Linked DNA regions of Homo sapiens. The protein of the gene in region 4 purifies or fractionates together with the protein of the main gene of each other region. This does not show direct contact. Each region holds a gene or a part of one and is shown on either strand. Other genes may lie near its edges.

Evidence for each region. Proteins that work in one complex are often made in the same cells at the same time.
Region 1: the proteins of HM13 (region 4) and ATP2B3 fractionate together in Homo sapiens (co-fractionation; one large-scale study listed by BioGRID). This does not show direct contact.
Region 2: the proteins of HM13 (region 4) and ADGRG1 purify together in Homo sapiens (affinity purification with mass spectrometry; one large-scale study listed by BioGRID and IntAct). This does not show direct contact.
Region 3: the proteins of HM13 (region 4) and AGPAT5 purify together in Homo sapiens (affinity purification with mass spectrometry; one large-scale study listed by BioGRID and IntAct). This does not show direct contact.

The regions. Positions count from the first base shown.
Region 1 is NC_000023.11:153,555,642-153,560,097, forward strand, and holds part of ATP2B3 (plasma membrane calcium-transporting ATPase 3), read left to right. Parts: intron 1-407; coding exon 408-587; intron 588-689; coding exon 690-777; intron 778-1,275; coding exon 1,276-1,382; intron 1,383-2,470; coding exon 2,471-2,662; intron 2,663-4,087; coding exon 4,088-4,301; intron 4,302-4,456. UniProt on the Homo sapiens protein: ATP-driven Ca(2+) ion pump involved in the maintenance of basal intracellular Ca(2+) levels at the presynaptic terminals. Uses ATP as an energy source to transport cytosolic Ca(2+) ions across the plasma membrane to the extracellular compartment.
Region 2 is NC_000016.10:57,656,130-57,660,585, reverse strand, and holds part of ADGRG1 (adhesion G-protein coupled receptor G1 isoform b precursor), read right to left. Parts: intron 4,361-4,456; coding exon 4,315-4,360; intron 4,073-4,314; coding exon 3,969-4,072; intron 3,214-3,968; coding exon 3,095-3,213; intron 1,192-3,094; coding exon of another isoform or gene 1,174-1,191; coding exon 905-1,173; intron 1-904. UniProt on the Homo sapiens protein: Adhesion G-protein coupled receptor (aGPCR) for steroid hormone 17alpha-hydroxypregnenolone (17-OH), which is involved in cell adhesion and cell-cell interactions.
Region 3 is NC_000008.11:6,746,642-6,751,097, forward strand, and holds part of AGPAT5 (1-acyl-sn-glycerol-3-phosphate acyltransferase epsilon), read left to right. Parts: intron 1-1,028; coding exon 1,029-1,187; intron 1,188-4,456. UniProt on the Homo sapiens protein: Converts 1-acyl-sn-glycerol-3-phosphate (lysophosphatidic acid or LPA) into 1,2-diacyl-sn-glycerol-3-phosphate (phosphatidic acid or PA) by incorporating an acyl moiety at the sn-2 position of the glycerol backbone.
Region 4 is NC_000020.11:31,519,939-31,525,350, reverse strand, and holds part of HM13 (signal peptide peptidase), read right to left. Parts: intron 1-5,412. UniProt on the Homo sapiens protein: Catalyzes intramembrane proteolysis of signal peptides that have been removed from precursors of secretory and membrane proteins, resulting in the release of the fragment from the ER membrane into the cytoplasm.

The DNA of each region.
Region 1 (4,456 bases), on a different chromosome or scaffold from region 4:
TTGCAGGCTGTTCGCTTTCCACTCAGCACTGGGGAACCTCTTTCTCTTTCTCCAGAATCTAATGTGATGCAGGTGGTCCCCAACTTTTAACAATTTTGTAACTTGGTGCAAAGGTGATGCACATTCAGCAGAAACTTTACTTCGAGTCCCATGCTTTTCCCTTTCAGTGCAGGATTCAATGAGTTACATGAGATAATCAGCACTGTATTCCACAATAGGCTTTGTGTTCAATGCTTTTGCCCAACTGTAGGCTAACACAAGTGTTCTGAGCACGTGAATCGGATGGCTTTACTCTCACCTCTGCTGGACCTTGGGCCACCTGCAGATCTGATGGAGGAAGGGGTACTGCCTCAACCCAAAATACGTCTTGCCTCGATGGCCCCGCCCACCTCTCTTGTCTCTTCTAGGTCCCTGAAGCTATCCGAAAATGCCAGCGTGCTGGCATCACAGTCCGCATGGTGACTGGGGACAACATCAACACGGCCCGGGCCATCGCAGCCAAATGCGGCATCATCCAGCCCGGGGAGGACTTCCTGTGCCTAGAAGGGAAGGAGTTCAACCGGCGGATCCGCAATGAGAAAGGCGAGGTAGCACCCGGCTGTCTGCCACCCCAGACCCCCCTTCTCCTCACCCCAGCCCCCTGCGTGCCCGCCTTAGCTCTGCAGCGTCCTTGTGCTTCCCCTCCCCAGATAGAACAGGAGCGGCTGGACAAGGTGTGGCCCAAGCTGAGGGTGCTGGCCCGGTCGTCTCCCACCGACAAGCACACACTGGTCAAAGGTAGCCGAGCCCCCACACCCCTTTCCTGGGGTGGCCAGCCCGAGGTTGTCTGCTTCCTGACACCAAAAGCCAGGTTCCCAAACAGGTCCCCAGGGCCTGCCTAGGAAGCTGGGTCCATTTGTCCCATTAGCCCAGAGCAGCAGGGCAGGGGCCCATGAGGGAACCAGGGTTCGGGGAGGGCTAGTGACTCACTCCAAGTCACACAGTGAGTCTCTAGAAGCAGTGGGTCTAGAGCCAGGGACCCAGGATTGTGTCCCCAGGCCCTAACCAGATCCCTATCCTCCCACCCTGGCCCTGTCACTCAGTGAGATTTGCTTACTTATTTGGGGATAGGAGATGATCCAGGTGACGGGGAGCACAGATAATTGGGACAGTCAGGACGGGGTAATCCCAAAGGGTTTTCACAGCCAACCTACCCCCATAGCTCCCTGGGCAGGGCTACACAGGGTTGTGGTGACAGATGGCCCCAGCCCTGCCCTGCCCTGATCTGTCTTCCAGGGATTATCGACAGCACCACTGGTGAGCAGCGGCAGGTGGTGGCTGTGACAGGGGATGGCACCAACGATGGGCCGGCCCTCAAGAAGGCGGACGTGGGCTTCGCCATGGTAAGCCACCTGGTGCCCGCCCAGCTCACCACGGCAGATGGGGCCTGCATCTGTCCCATGGACATTAGCTTTGTACCAGGAAGTGGGAGCCAGTGTCGGGGCAGGTTACAGAGTGCCTGAAGGTTCTTTCTTTCACATCCTGGCCACTTGGGCCTGCGTGGGCTCTGCCAGTCGGGGGACATGTGGTTAAAGGCATCTGCTGTGATGCCCAAGGTGACAGTGGGCCCCAGACATACTGTGGAGAGGAAGGGGAATGGGGGGTGGGGGCTCATCACTGATGGCATTGCCCACCCCCGTCCTCTCTAAATGGACTCTCAGCCCCAGATGAGGTGAGCAGAGTCCCCAGATGTGCTCTTCCTCTGCACTTCCTTCCTGTTGCTCACCCACTGAGCAGGGTAGCCCTGCAGACGCCACCCACATGGCTGGTTGCGGCCCCTCAGTGGCCCCACAGCCACTGAACGCAGCAACCTGGTGAGCCCCTCTCCCTGCCCTACCGAAAAGGAGTGTCACCCAGGGAACCCAGCCCAGTCCTTCCCAGCACCCGTAGCCCAGAAGGGAGCTCCAGCCCAAGCTTCGAGAGGTGGCAGCTCTCACGGGGCCAGGCTTGGGGCAGAGGAGAGGACTGCGCAGCTTGGCACAGCTGCAGCTGCGCCTCCATGGGACAGGGACTCCTCTGCAAGGAGCCGCCCCGCCCAGGGTGTCCCCATGCAGGACTTCCCAGGGCTCCTTAGCCAGCAAGCCTCTCTGGAGTGCTAAGAACAGACCACGCTGCTTGGTGGCCACGTGGTGGCAGCTGGGCTTTATGTGTAAAGCTGTGTTGATGCCATGTCATCAGCACCCTCTGTGTTTATGAGCAAAGCCCCCCCCCCCACCGTGACATGTGACAACTTACTGTTTGTAGTACAAGAATGTGTTGCATTAAAAAAAAGCAACAAAAAACAGTGCTGTTCTTGGCTTTGGGGGGCGGGGTGGGATGTTATTCAGAAGGGGAGAGCAGGGAGCCAGCCCAGGCGGGCCAGGTGATCAAGGGGGGCTGGGGAAGGGGCCCCCACAAACACTCTGTGTGAGTGTGTGTGTCACCCCCCCAGGGCATCGCAGGGACCGACGTGGCCAAGGAGGCCTCCGACATCATCCTGACCGATGACAACTTCACCAGCATCGTCAAGGCAGTCATGTGGGGCCGTAACGTCTATGACAGCATCTCCAAGTTCCTGCAGTTTCAACTGACGGTCAATGTGGTGGCTGTGATCGTGGCCTTCACAGGTGCCTGCATTACTCAGGTGGGTACTGGGGGCTGCCATGCCCCAGCTAGGACACCTGGGCTCAGGCCTGAGGGCCAGATTGTGAGAGTGAGGGTTTTGTTTTCTTTGCTGCAGATTATTTTAATTGAGATCAAATTCATATGCCAAAAATTCACCATTTTCAAGTACATAATTCAGCACTCGAATTTGTAGGACATTCACCACGTTGTGCAACCATTGGCTCTATCTAGTTCCAGAAGATTGTCATCATCTTAAAAAGAAACCCTGTGCTCTTGAGCAGTCATTTCCCCATTTCTCCCCCAAACATCCCAGCCCCCGGCAACCACTCACAGGCTTCCTGGGTCTATGGATTTGCCTGTTCCGGACATTTCATTCCTATGGGATCAAATAATATGTGGCCTCTTGTGTCTGGCATCTCGCTTAGCACCGTGTTTTCAGGCTCACACACACCGTAGCATAGGGCAGGACTTTCTGCCTTTTCATGGCCTCATAACACTCCACGGCACAGACTGCCACATTATGTATGTCTGCCCTGATGGACACATGGCTCGTTCCCACTTTTTGGCTCTTGTGAATGGTGCTGCCAGGAGCATCTGTGTATGAGTTTCTGCGTGGGCTATGCGTCCCATGGGAACCCTTTCTCAACAGTCCCATTTTCCCCATTGGTGAGTGTCCAGATTTTCTTCACCCCGCCTTAGAAAGGGGGTGTTTAAATTGCCTGCTGATCAACTTGGTCTTTTCAAAACAATTTTTTAAATTGAGATAAAAAATCACATAACAAACTTCAACAGAACCATTTTAACCTTTTGAAAGTACATAACTCCGAGGTTTATATCCCTCCACTGTCTATTCCCAGAACATTCTCATCACCCCAAAAGGACACCCAGACCCCGTGAGCAGTCACTCTCTACTCCCCAAACCCCAGCCCCTGGCACCCACTCATCTGCTTTCTCTCTCTATGGATTTGTCAGTTCTGGAAGTTTCCTATGAATGGAATCAGACAGTACGTGGCCTTGTGTGTCTGGCTTCTGTGAGGCTGATTTTTAACGAACAACTCAGAGGAGCTGAGAAGGAAGGTCCAGTTCAGAGTTTCTGCCTCCTCCTGCCCCTGAGGTGCAGGAGACAAGGAGAGCAGCCCTCACTCTGTTGCCCCAAATGGCAGACCCCATCGTCGGGCTGTTTTGTGGTCTGGGGTTTTTCACCTCCTGCGAGGGATTTGGAGCACACCTGCTGCCAGGTGAGAGAAGGGAGGCGGGCACGTGACAGCCCAAAGAAAACGCCCCACTAGCGTAAAGGCGATGTAGGGATGGAGATGTCTGTTTTCATGGGCATGAAATCCTGGTGATGTGGACCCCATGAGGAGCCCCCAGGAGCTACTGGGTTTCCACCCCCAACCTTCCCGGGCAGGCGGCCCATGGAAAGGTGACTGCCTCCTCTCCATAGGACTCTCCTCTCAAAGCCGTGCAGATGTTGTGGGTGAACTTGATCATGGACACATTTGCCTCTCTGGCCCTGGCGACGGAGCCACCCACAGAGTCGCTGCTGCTGCGGAAGCCGTACGGCCGCGACAAGCCCCTCATCTCCCGCACCATGATGAAGAACATTCTGGGCCACGCCGTGTACCAGCTCGCCATCATCTTCACCCTGCTGTTTGTCGGTAGGCTGGCCAGGGGCACCCGGGAGGACTTCAGGACACTGTTGCCACCACCTCGGGCTCAGATTCTGTCTGGTGTGTCTCCACCTGTGTCTCCGCACCCAGTACGGGGTGGGACGCTGCACTTCCTGACTGGACAGCACACAGGGGAAGGAGCA
Region 2 (4,456 bases), on a different chromosome or scaffold from region 4:
GGTTTCCTATAAGGGGATGCCATCTCCTCCAACCTTAGCCCTGCCCTTCGTCACCCTGGGGGCCCCTGGGAGAAAGGCCTGTGGGTCTCTGCTGCAGGGCTGGATGTCACAGGGGAGATGGGAGGGGCAGACAGTTTAGGAGGGACGGCAAGAGTTCTGCCATCAGGGGACGTCTGCACTGGGCCTTGACCTCGCCCGTTCGGTGGAGATTAGAAGCTCCCTAGAGGGGGCTGCCCACCTCCAAACACAAAGTCCTGACACAGAGACACCTCCAAAGGAATTTCATGCAAATGGGGGAATGGACAAAGAAGGGGCCCAATGACAAACCCGCGAAGAGCAGCAAGCTGGAGTCAGGGGCATGCGGAGGTTGAGGGGTCTGTGCAATGTCCAAACAGACTTGTGGCATCATGAGCCCCTGGGCTGTAGGTCTGACATAAGAGGGCTGGCCACAGGTGAATTGAACAGTCATTGGCCAAGAACAAAATGCCAAGCCACAGGGAATCTGTTACCCAAGGTCCAGGGGGATCCTGAGGCAGGGCCACTGCCAGCCCGAGTGAATTAAATGACTGGAGCGGGACTGGATTTCAGCCCCTCTGATCTCTGAACTGGGTGCCTTTGAGCAGTGCACAACCTGCACATTCACACACGGTGGCCCTGCTCGTAAATCCCCTTTGCAATGGAGTGAGTGATGTGGAGAATTTGGAAGTGTTTCTTGGGGACAGGGCTCACTGCTTCTTCCTAAAGGGGACCTTGATTCAGCCAAGGTGAAGGACACCTGAGGATGAGTGAAGGAGGCCAGGAGGGAAGTCAGAGAGATAGGTGGAGAGGCAGAACCAGGTGCCTGGGTTTTGCCAGAGCCAAGTGGGAGAGGCAGGTCTGAGGCACCCCCCGCCCAACCACTTACCCCAGCCCATGGCGCTCAGCTTGAGTAGGTAGCCAGGGACATAGGTGCCAAAGACCTCCACCACGAGTCGGTAGAGGTTGTACCCCTCGAGGCCCATCCAGGAAAGGCAGGTGAGCAGGGAGAAGTGCAGGAAGATGGCACTGGCTCGGCAGCCAGCCTCAGAGCCTGTCAGGGCCACCGGCTCGCTGAGCAGGAAGCTCGTGTCCAGCAGGAAGACGGCCAGCAGCAGGTTCATGTGCACCTTGATGGTGTAGTCCCGAGGTTTCCTCCTGCACGGCAGGGGCACCCTGGTGGGCCAGTGTGGGAAGGTAGAGAGGGGAGTGTGCCCACATCTCCTCCAGGAAGCCTTCCCAGACTGCCCCCCACCCCGACACACACATGCAGTCATACATGGCCCCTATCCTATTCCTGTGGCTGCAGCCAAACTGTTCCCCACATCCCCCTGTGCACCTACTGTGTGCCCAGCACCCACAGACTCAGGCACCACGTGCACGTTTAACAGAAGCCTCAGCCAGGCAGAGCGAGGAAGACAACCACAGTAATAAACCAGATACTCTCAAAGTCAGAGCGGAAACACTTTGGCATTTTCACCATGTTGGAGAATCCATGCCATCCACATTCTGTGTCTTCCCGTCTGTCTGCACAACTGTGCACCTGTGAGTCTGAGTGTGGGCTGCCCGCATCGGTCTGTCTGAGGTTTGCAAGTCAATGTGTGCACACCCCACCCCACCCCCACTCCAGGATTCTACATGGCCCTAGAGGGTGCAGCAGAACATGCAGGCCCCAGTGTCACCATCCTGGAGTCCCACCCTGCCCTGCCCCTAACTCATGGCACCATCTTCAGCTGGTCCCCTCCCCTTGAGACTCTCAGTTTGCCTATCTGTGAAGTGGGAGGATGGTACCCTCATAGGGTTGGGGTGAGAGTTACACTGACACAAAGCATCTGACACAGATAAGGTGCTCAGTTCCTAAGGGTTCCTGTGCTGTGTCCTTGGGCATGTTTGTGAGCAACTGGGTGTTGAGGACTTCTGCCTCCACCCCCAGCCTTCCGCCGAGCCCATCTCATCACCCAGCTGTCCTTCCTCATCACCATCACCTACTTAGCTCCCCAGGTACACAGCTGTGCACACACAGGACAGTCATATAGGCACACACGTGCTTGTGCACACGCATAAATACAGCTTCACTTTCCTCTCCTTCCTCGTGGCTGGGGACAGTGAGAACCGAGGGTGCCTCTCCTCTACCCAAATGGGTTCAGCGCTGAGGGCAAGTGGACCCCAATTTAGGCCAAGCCAAGCACTGACAATCTGACCTCTGCCACTTCCTTGCTGTGTGACCTCAAGCAAGTCACTTACCCTCTCTGAGTGTTCCTTCATAGGGCTGTTGTGAGGATGAATTGAGTTCACACATGTAAAACACTTAGAACAGTGCATGGCACACGGGAAGTTTGACACACGTTAAGTATGATCATTACCGCTGTGATATTATTGTGTCCACCCAGTGCTCTCACAAATCTGCTTATTCAAAGGCAGAAATGAAAAATCTTTCCTTTTTTAAGTTTTTTATTTTGCTTTCCTGTCTTACTCTAGGAAAGAAACAGATTCTTAGGTGGACTCTCTCAATTTTAAATGTTGACAATTAGCCTGGCACAGTGACTCATGCCTGTAATCCCAGCGCTTCGGGGGGCTGAGGTGGGTGGATCACTTGAGGTCAGGAGTTCGAGACCAGCCTGAGCAACATGGTGAAACCCCGTCTCTACTAAAAATATACAGATTAGCCAGGTGTGGTGGCAGGCGCCAGTAGTCCCAACTACTCAGGAGGCTGAGGCACAAGAATCACTTGAACCCGGGAGGCAGAGGTTGCAGTGAGCCGAGATCATGCTACTACACTCCAGCCTGGGCGACAGAGGCAAGGCTCTGTCTCAAAAAAATAATAATAATAAAATAAAAATAAAAATAAATAAATACAATGTCGACAGCTAAAATTTGTAAATACTATGTTATCCAAACACCACTGATCTGAGGAGGAGACGTGGCCCCCAAGGGTCAGCTTACCCCAAACAGCTCCCCTAACCACACACACAGTTCCAGGTCATGCGGGCGGGCCATGACCGGAGATGTGTGCGGCGCCCTGGTGGAGGTGTGTGCAATGGAGGGTCCCCTCCCCTGTCCCACCCCTTTCAGGCCTCACCTGGAGCAGAGGTAGGCGGCAATGGTGACAAGGCAGGCCAGGGCAGAGACGACACAGCCCACGTAGGAGAGGAGGCTCAGGTAGTGCTTGTGCACGGCGTCCACCTCCACCGAGGAGACCTGGCCCCAGGAGACAGGAGAGAGCTGGCCTCTGTGTCCCCCACACAACCTGGAGGCTTGCCCTGCGTGAGGGGCTAACCTGGGGTCCCTGGTGGGCCTCGGAAGCCTAAGAACCCCCTCTCCCAACTGAGCAGAATGTGGTCCCATAAGTGCATTTTTCTGGAGTGGGGGCATCTTTAGATTTGACCACATTCTCAAGCGGCTTCCTGACCCACAGAGGCCAAGAACCCTTCATGAGAGAACCCCTATTCTGTCCTGGCATTGATTATTCTTCTATAACATTTAACATGGGAATAGGTTTCCTGTGAGGGAATGAGATTCCCACACCCAGGGGTGTTCAAGCCCCAGGTGGATACCCACAGGCAGAATCCTACAGTCCTGGGAGCATGAATTCTGAGGTCTTGGGGGCACTGGAGGCCACCTCAGGGGCCTCATTAGAAACACTCTTGGCCCCATCACTGCCAAATCAGAACCCTAGGTGAGGGCCAGGAATCTGCATTTTCGTACACACCAAAATTTGGGAATAAAGAGCAGGGGCTCTACAAACCAGCTCTTTCACTGACTAGCTGTGTGGCCACGGGTAAATTGCTTAACCTCTCTGAGCCTCCATTTCCTCATCTATAAAATGGGACAACAATAGAAGCTACCTTGGAGAGCTGTTATGAGGAATAAATGACTGAATATATGAAAAGTGCTTGCACAGAACAAGCACACGGCCTGGGGTGTGGCTGCGAGGTGGGAGCAGGGACCCTCACCATCAGCACTGCAAAGTAGGTCAAGTGGTTGCAGAAGCAGGATGTTTGGGTTTCTCTCCTGACGGTCTCACACCCAGCACTGCTCCAATGCCCCGGGCTGCTCACTGAGGAGGGGACAGCACGGGGCTCCAATCAAGTCCAGTCCTCCAGGACCCCACTGTGTCCACCCCCAAAAGCACGACTGTGTCATTCTTCCACCCGGCCTACTCATAGCCTGCCATCGCTCTCTCTTCAAAGTCCTCCTTTCTCCAGGAAGCCCTCGGTGATTAACCCCACCTCCCCCACCCCCCAGGACTCTATTTCTCTTCCAGATACTTGTCCAGCCCAGAGACCCCTGCATACTCACATGTGGGGTCTTCAACCCAGAACACACATTGCAGAGTCACATTCTTCTGTAGGGACAAGAAAGGAGAGTGGTTTCTGTGACAGCCCCCCACCCCTCCAACTTTACAGGCCAGGCAGAGGAAGTCTAGAACACAGTCAAGCCA
Region 3 (4,456 bases), on a different chromosome or scaffold from region 4:
AAGTCAGATACGTGCTTGTGGGAATCTTTGTCTTTCCCACACCACCCTGCATTTTAAAACCTCTTGTGTGGGACAGTCCCACCATGTAATAGCTGTTCTTCCTTACTCAGCTACTTTCCCTCCAGAGAGGCCAGTAGAAAATCTAGACTAGTTTTTTATAGTCTATTTTCATGTCACTTATTGAGAGCTACTGTTTTCTGTTAAATTGTCAGTAAATATTTTAATCAAGGAAAAGGGAGGTAATAGGAAGGAGAGAAGAACAAATCCTTAACCCTAGTAGGAACCTAATGAATGGGATTTGTTCTGGATAATTGCAGTAGTCCCCCAGCTAAAGAACCTTTTAAAAATATGTCAGATATACCCAAGAGGATTGAAATCGTATGTTCATACAAAAGCTTGTTCACCTGCAGCCTTCATATGCAATTCCTATGAATGTTCATAGCAGCATTATTCATAATAGCCAAAGTATGGATGCAACCCAAATGTCCATGAAGCAATTAATAGGTAAACAAAATGTGATCTGTTCACACAGTGGAATACTAACTATTCAGCCATAAAAAGGAATGAAGCACTGAGTCCTGCAGCCACACAGATGAACCTCAGATCCATGCTGAGCGAAAGAAGCCAGAAACAGGAGGCCATGTGCTGTGTGACTGTATTTCTAGGAAATCTTGAGTCACCATGGGCAAGATGCTATCACCTTTGTTCAGTGGCCAGAAGCGAGGGCACTAATATTTACCCTTGCCGGGGTCTACTAGATTGAAGCGTTTCCGCTAGGCCATAAACTTCCAACACGGTGACTTGTACATGTAGATATTTGATCAATATATAGCAAATGAATATTGATTTAAACAGAAAAAGGCAAGTGAGAGTGCTTTCTAAACTTAGAGCCCTAAATATATGAGGTTGTGGAATTAATAGATTCTGTTGTGTGTGTTTGAGGGAATTTAAAAATAATTTAGATGTTAAACAGTATATTGTGGAGGTGTTTTGTAACTAATTAATGACGGCACTGAATTGACTTCTAGGCCTTGCAGTATTAAAACATGTGCTAACACCACGAATAAAGGCAACTCACGTTGCTTTTGATTGCATGAAGAATTATTTAGATGCAATTTATGATGTTACGGTGGTTTATGAAGGGAAAGACGATGGAGGGCAGCGAAGAGAGTCACCGACCATGACGGGTAAGTGTGTTCACGCACCTGAAATGCCTGTACACGGTATATACAGTGCACATGTTTATGTAGAATTCAGTTTTACAAAGTAGGTTAAGTGTACTTTTTTCCTTCATTACATTTACCCGGTATATTTTTCAAGATGTTATTAAGATGTAACAGTGGAGATTTCATTAGTCCTGCAAAGTGTGGTATTTCTTGGCTGTCGTGTGAGTCCTGTGGACTCACCAATTATCATTAATCCAGCCTCTTTCTACTCAAAGTTCACACTTAAAAGGAAAGCTCTGTAAAAGGGAGGAAGACGTGAAGAAGGAGCACGCCCGGCAGTACTGAGTGCACGTTATTAGTCAGTGCTGCCCTTTTGCTGTATTTTTCGTAAAATATTTATTAAATTTGGGTGTCATTGTGACAAGAAGAAATGCAGTTAAGTGTGACCTTTTTTTTTCCCCAAACATGTTAGGTTTTAAGAACCTTTGAGCTATTGTCAGATATAACCAGAAAAAAATAGAATTTTAAGTGAGCAGGATAACTTAGTTAAACTAACCAAACATAGTGTTAGCTGTTAGAGAAATGTAAACATGGAAATAGGCAAACAGGGAAGTGTGTGGAGTTTCTGTTTCCTTTTCAAAATATCTGTTTGAGCTGGGGTTGAGAGAGAACACTAGGCTTCATGGGGTTTTTTTGTTTTTCGTTTTTTGTTTTGAGACAAGAGTTTCGCTCTGTCGCCCAGGCTGGAGTGCAGTGGCGCAATCTTGGCTCACTGCAACCTCCGCCTCCCACGTTCACACGATTCTCCTGCCTCAGCCTCCTGAGTAGCTGGAACTACATGCGTGTGCCACCATGCATGACTAATATTTGTATTTTTAGTAGATATGCGATTTCACCTTGTTGGCCAGGCTGGTCTCAAACTCCTTACCTCAGGTGATCCACGCACCTCGGCCTCCCAAATGAGCTTTGTGTTTTTACCTCATCAGCTGTTTGGGGTTGAGCCACTATGTATGTCAGTGTGCTTGTATCAGTAGGATCTACTGAGGGCAGATGTTCAAAATATGAGCCTCCAGCACGTTTTACATGGAAACCCTCACCTGAAGCATTCGTCTGAAGTTGATGTGCCTTGGAAATTTTATAGAGTAATATTTTTAACTACAACAAAACATTTATAAAAGTAGACATTATTAAAGCATTCAGAAGTGAGCAAGGATAGAAATTATTCTGCCCAACCTTACACGTAGGCCTTCTAGACGTAGTACTGTGCACCGTTACATTATCTAACACTGTCTGTGTGTCATCTTTGGATGTTAGGGATTTTTCCAAAGTTCAGTGAGATTATAGTTGTCAAATGATTAGTCTGTTAAATAATGATAAGATGAGGGTCACTCAGGTTTTAAAAGAAAAGCTCTTTGACTGAAAGAGAGAGCAGCTGTCTACTGCAGAAAGTTAGGGAGGGAGGCTGGAGGAGTGAGGCCCAGGGGCTAGCTAGTATAAAAATTGGTTATGGTCGAAGGAAAAAAAAATGTAACATATTTATATCTGAAAGATGATTGTTCTCATAATTGTATATAACACAGAGTAATTGTAAAGTAGAAAACTAAGGTGTTTTTCATTTTAGATGTAAATGTTTAGAATATGTAATGCATCAGTTTAAAAATTAAAACTGTACGAAATGCACAGTGAAACGTCTTCCTTGCTTTCCACCCTGCTACCTGGCCTTCCCTTCTCCTTCCTAGCGATAACCAGTTTTCTTAATTTGTTGTGCGTTGTATGTGCAAATTTAAGTATATCTTCTTATTCTACCATCCCTCCCTTCTTACAGAAAAGTGGCATATTAATATTTTTCTCTTTTAAACTATCGAAGGAGTTACTTACCTATTTTTGCATTTGAAAACAGACAGTTCATCAAGATTGTCGTTGGTTTATTAAACATAGTTTAAGATTAAACAAGTGTTTATAACCAATGAAAAACAGATAGACTCCCCATAATAACCTTGTTTAAATGCTGCTACTTTTATCATGTCCCCTCCTGTCTAAGAACCCCTTGGTTCAGCAGAGCTCATGGGTAAGGCCAGCCTCTGTTGCCTGCCATCGGAGGAATGCGTTCCAGCCGTGATCTCTGCCTTGCCTTCGCTTCCTCCTGTGCTGTGCCGTGAAGCCTCGGCCGTGGTGAAGCTGGCTGACTGAGTCCTCCTGCACCCCATGCATATTCAGTAGTTGAAGGCTTTGTGTGGCCAATCCTGCTTTCCACAGGAAACCACCCTCTCTTTTGTTGCCCTCATCCAAGGCTACTGTTCTCCCACAGTGACAGGCGGCACCTTTCCCAGCATAGCACTGTGCCTTCTCCTGCCCCTGCTCTTGCAGTACTGCTGTGGCACTGATGGCGTGTGTTACAGTGCTGGCACTTAGCACAGGGCTCTGCCTTTCTCTCTTCCCAGCCGCATCATAAGTGCCTTGAGGAAGCCAAAACCTTCTGTGAGTTGCATTGCCTGGGTTCCAACCTCCCACTGCCCTGCTTATCCTCTGCTACATGTGAGCTGACTGTGGCTTTGGGGTGGTCACTGCCTATGTGTATTCATTACAAATTGTCTCCTTTTGAAAGATTGACCTTTCTGACTTACCCAGATACCATAAAGAAAATAAAATCTTATCACTTCAGTCAAGGATAAAGTATTTCTGAATTAAAGGAAAAATACACCAGAGTAAAATCAAGACTGAAAGACAAACTGGGAAATTATTTACAACCTAGATCATAGAAAAGGGGTCATTTCCTTCTTGCGTAAAGTGCACTTACAAATTGATAAGAAGATGACTGATAACTAGAAAGAAAAATGGGTAAAGAACAACAATAGACATTTCACATTTAACCTCATTCATGATAAGGTAAGTGCAAATGAAAACTACAGGGGATACCTTTTTTTTTTTTAATCCATTAGATTGGCAAACATCCCAAGGTTTGATCATAGGCTCAGTGGGTGAGATTCAAGTATTATCAGGCATTTTTATACTTTGCTGTTAGGAATGCAATGTAGTACAAACCTTTGTAGAAGTTGCTTTGGAAATGTCTCTCAGATGTACAAATGCATTCACATTTTAGATTTAGCATTCCCGCTTTCTGAGACATTATTCAACATGTATACGTGTGCACATAAGATATAATAATAACACGTTTTTCCTTCTAGTGTGTTGCTTTTAACCTGTAGCTTGAAAAAACTCTGCTTTCATTGTTTTTTTTTGTTTTCTGTCACTGGCTCAGCCCTGCTTTCAATTGTTTATATGAATTGATG
Region 4 (5,412 bases):
GGAGAAGGTAAGACTGGCTCAGAGAGGCCCTAGTGTCCCAGGTGGAAGGTTGCAAAGAGGGAAGGAGATGGGGCAGAGGGCAGTAAGCCCACAAAATGACTACTAGGAGAGGGAGGTGTGGGCTAGATTCGAAATCCTGGGTTTAAGTAATCCTCTTGCCTCAGCCTCCCAAGTAGCTGGGATTACAGGCATGCACCACTGTGCCTGGCTAAAGGAAATACATAGACAGCACTGGCCTAAAGTATAAACCTGTCCAGCCTTTTCGGGAGGGTAATTTGGCAGGATGCATTAGACTGAAATTTCCACATGCCCAAAGATACAAAAAGAGGAGCCACAGAGGCCGGGCACAATGGCTCACGCTTGTAATCCCAGCACTTTGGGAGGCCGAGGCAGGCGGATCGTGAGGTCAGGAGATCAAGACCATCCTGGCTAACGTGGTGAAACCCCATCTCTACTAAAAATAGAAAAAATTAGCCAGATGTGGTGGCGGGCGCCTGTAGTCCCAGCTACTCGGGAGGCTGAGGCAGCAGAATGGCATGAACCCGGGAGGCGGAGCGTGCAGTGAGCCAAGATTGTGCCACTGCATTCCAGCCTGGGCGACAGAGCGAGACTCCATCTAAAAAAAAAAAAAAAAAAAAAAGCCACACAACAAGAACTACAAATGGCTCTTAATAATAATAAAAAAAGTCTTTATTCTCACTCTTAATAAGAGCTCAAACTAAAGCACACTGAGATTCTGTTTTTTGTCTATCGGAAAGGTAAGAATCCACACACTGGGTAACATACTGAGTCGGTGGGGCTACGGGGAAAGATGTAGTCTCCCACACTGCCTATGGGAGTCAATCTGTCTTCCTGTAGAAAGCAACTAGGCAATACACAAAAAATTACAAATGCACATACCCTTTGACCAAGCAATTCCATCTGTGGGAATTCTCCCTACAGATATAGTTCATAAATAAGTAAAATGCTACACATAAAGTGTATCCAAGGTATTCCTTGCTCTGTTAACGGCTTGCTGAGTGACTGGGTTTACTTCTCTGTCAAACAGGAGGACAATCTCTAGCCTCACTTCAAAAAAGGTCCAAGAGCCTTCTTTTTTTTTTAAAGAAAAGTGACAGGGTCTCTCTCTGTTGCCCAAGCTGGAGTGCAGTGGCAGGATCATAGCTCACTGCAGCCTTGAACTCCTGGCATCAAGTGATCCTCCTGCCTTGGCCTCCCAAAATGCTGAGATTATAGGCGTGAACCACCACACCCAGCCCCATAGGAGTCTTAAAGCAAATAAGATATGGGATGCGAAACAGCCTGGCAAACTAAAGTACTGTGCCTGTATTGGGGGTTGTGACTATCAGGGAGAGGTGAGTGAGGAGGCCCCTAACCACACCCTTGCCTATGCATGGCTGAGGCAGCCCAGGCTCTGGGCTGGAAGGGAGACCCTCCCCTCTGGAGCCACTGGAGGCAGCTCCATGTGAGTCACTTGGACAGCTTTGCTAGGAGGTGGGAGTGGGGTGGGTGAACAATACCCACATGAGAGGCCCAGTTTCCTTCCTTCCCTATTCTCTCCCAACCCTTGGCTTCTGCTTTTGCCAGCAGTGTGCTGTGGGACTTGGGCAAGTTCCTCATCCCCTCTGAGCATCTCCACACATTCAATACATTTCCTGTGTAGCAGTAGTATGGGTACAAAAATGAGTTCCTGATCTTGAAACACTCACAGGCAGGTAGGTTAATACTGTGACATGATACATATTACAGGGAACACGTATTCTATTTTATGGAATGCACAGCAAAACTGGCTGGGCGTGGTGGCTCATGCCTGTAATCCCAGCACTTTGGGAGATGGAGGCGGGCGGATCACCTGAGGTCAGGATTTCGAGATCAGCCTGGCCAACATGGTGAAACCTTGTCTCTACTAAAAATACAAAAATTAGCTGGGCGTGCTGGTGTGCATCTGTAATCCCAGCTACTTGGGAGGCTGAGGGAGGAGAATAGCTTGAACCTGGGAGGTGGAGGTTGCAGTGAGCCGAGACTGAGCCACTGAACTCCAGCCTGGGTGGACAGCGAGACTCTGTCTCAAAAAAAAAAAAAGACCAGCCTGGCCAACATGGTGAAACCCCGTCTCTACTAAAAATACAAAAATTAGCCGGGTGTGATATTGTGCGCCTATGGTCCCAGCTACTCAGGAGGTTGAGGCAGGAGAATTGCTTGAACCCGGGAGGTGGAGGCCGTAGTGAGTGGGGATCGTGCCACTGAACTCCAGCCTCGGCAACAGAGCGAGACTCTGTCTCATAAAAAAAAAAAAGCCCCCCTCCCAAAAAAAACCCCAAACAGGCTATTATAATGTAGTGTGACACATGATGCAATAGACATGTATATCACTGTGACACACAGTATGAACATCAGCAGTTATGAAGGGACTCTGAGATCAGGAAGTCCATTTGGACTCCCAGCTCTACTTCCCAGCTGTGGGACCTTGGGAAAGTGATTTTTTTTTTCTCTAAGCCTCAATTTCCTCAGCTGTAAAACAAGTTGTGAGGATTCTGATTTCTGCTTTGGAAGTACTCAGCATTGTATCTCGAGTCATCATTTAAACCGTATACACCATTTGTATCATTATTATGCAAAACGGAATCACGACACAGCCAACAAGACACTATTTCTGCAGAGAAGTAAGGGAGTCAGAGGTGGCAAGAGCAGGTACCACTTAAGCAAGGCCTTGATGGTCAAGCACAGTGTCTGGTAGTCTGGAGCCAGACAAATGCTGACTGGGTTTAGGAGTCAGCTTGTCAGTTTTTTTTTTTTGTTTTTTTTTAGTGGAGTTTTGCTCTTTTTGCACAGGCTGGAGTGCAATGGCACAATCTCAGCTCACTACAAATCAAGTGATTCTCTGCCTCGGCCTCCTGAGTAGCTGGGATTATAGGCACCTGCCACCACACCCAGCTAATTTTGTATTTTTAGTAGAGATGGGGTTTCACCATGTTGGCCAGGCTGGTCTCAAACTCCTGACCTCAGATGATCTGCCTGCCTTGGCCTCCCAAAGTGCTGGGATTACAGGTGTGAGCCACCATGCCCGGCTTGAGGAGTGTGCTTTGTGTACAAGGAAAGGAAGTGCTTATCAGGCAGAAAGATATGCACATGCAGAGGCTCAGGGCTGTCAAAGGACACGCAGGACTCTGTGGCTTCACCTACAAACCAGCATTATGGCTCATTTCCACATATTCCTTTCAATTCAGCTCAGCACCCTGGGTGGGAAGAGGCCTAATCTTATTCAGTGACAAACCAAGGTTGGACAGATCCTCTCCATTACACAGAGGACTCTGGTCTCCTTTGCGGGTGACTTATAAATATCCCATGCTGCAATGCTGAGTCAGAATGGGAGACTGGACTGTAATCCCAGCACTTTGGGAGGTCAAGGTGGGCAGATCGGTTGAGCCCAGGAGTTTGAGACCAGCATGGGCAACATGGAGATACTCTGCCTCCATTAAAAAAAAAAAAAAAAAAAGAATGGGAGACCTGAAATCTGACGATAATAGTAATAACAATAACATTACTGCACTGTTCTAGGTACTTTACATGTTTTCATCCTCACAAAAACCCCACAAAGCAGGTACTTTTTTTTTTTTTTTTTGAGATGGAGTCTCGCTCTGTTGCCCAGGCTGGAATGCAGTGGTGCAATCTTGGCTCACTGCAACCTCCGCCTCTTGGGTTCAAGCAATTCTCATGTCTCAGCCTCCCGAGTAGCTGGGACTACAGGCATGTACCACCACGCCCAGCTAATTTTTTGTATTTTTAGTAGAGACAGGGTTTCACCATGTTAGTCAGGATGGTCTGTCACAAGATCCTGACCTTGTGATCTGCCTGCCTTGGCCTCCCGAAGTGCTGGGATTACAGGCGTGAGCCATCACGCCTGGCCAGCAGGTACTTTTAATAGCTCTTTTACAGATGAGGAAGCGGAGGTCTAGAGAGGTGAAGTAACTTGCTTAGTGTCACACAGCTGGTGAGTGGCAGAGCCAGGACTGAAACTGAGGCAGTCCAGTTCCAGACCCCAAACTCTTGGGAGCTGTTTCCTAGAAGATTTCTATCTTTCCTATCTGGAAATTTCGGTTGGAAAGTTTTAACAGGAAGATACTTGGGAAGCCTGCAACCTTTCTGAGGAACAGAATCCTGAAGGTAACTGAACAGCTAATCTTTGTAGTTACAAAAATACTAAAAAGTTGCTAGGATTCTTTACCAATCCAATTGCGATTTTTTAACCAGATTTGTGTATGTAAATACAATAGATCCTGCAACATAAAACACAATTAGAAAGTGGGGGAAAAACCTGACACAAACAGCAGAAGTAAATGTAGCTTCCAGTGACATTCTGGATGTTGTTATCAGAGCGGAAACAAAAGCTGTAAGAGAGGACAGATGCCTGCTTCAAGCCATTGGCACGGTTCAAGCTCTCGGAGCACTGCTTCTACGCCATGCCCTGGAAATGATCTGAAATTCATGGGCCATTCTGTTACTGTTGACCCAGCTGGAGACTCCAGAGTCTCCATTCTTTACCACAACATCCAGTCACTCAGCTCTCCAAGGTTACCTTTCCTAACTTCCCACCCCAATCCTTTGGCCCTCATTGCTGCATTGCTGTCTTCACAACCCCTGCACCAACATTACACTTCTCCCTCCTGCCTATCACCCACCCTGCCATGAGCTCTTTCTAAAGCCTACACCTGATTGTATCACGTATCTGCTTAAAAACCTCTGGAGAAGCCAGGCACAGTGGCTCACACCTGTAATCCCAGCACTATGGGAGGCCGAGGTGGGCGGATCACTTGAGGTCAAGAGTTCGAGACCAGCCTGGCCAACATGGTGAAACCCTGTCACTACTAAAAATATAAAAATTAGCCAGGCGTAGTGGCACGCGCCTGTAATTCCAGCTACTTGGGAGGCTGAGGCATGAGAATTGTTTGTACCTGGCAGGCGGAGGTTGCAGTGAGCCAAGATCACACCACTGCACTCCAGCCTGGCCAAAGAGTGAGACTCTAACAAATGAACAAACAAACAAACAAAAACAACAACAAAAAAACAAAACCTCTGGAGAACAGACTACTCCACAGCCATTAAACAAGAATTGAGGTCATTGCTGGTGGGAAAGTAAACTGATACAACCTCTATAGTGGATCATATGGTAAAATCTATCTAAATAAAAAGTGTGGGCTGGGAACAGTGGCTCACGCCTGTAATCCCAGCACTTTAGGAGGCCAAGGCGGGCAGATCACCTGAGGTCAGGAGTTTGAGACCAGCCTGGCCAACATGGTAAAACCCCATCTGTATGAAAAACATAAAAATTAGCCAGGTGTGGTGGGTGCGCGCCTGTAATCCTGTAATCCCAGCTACTCAAGAGGCTGAGGTGGGAGAATTGCTTGAACCCAG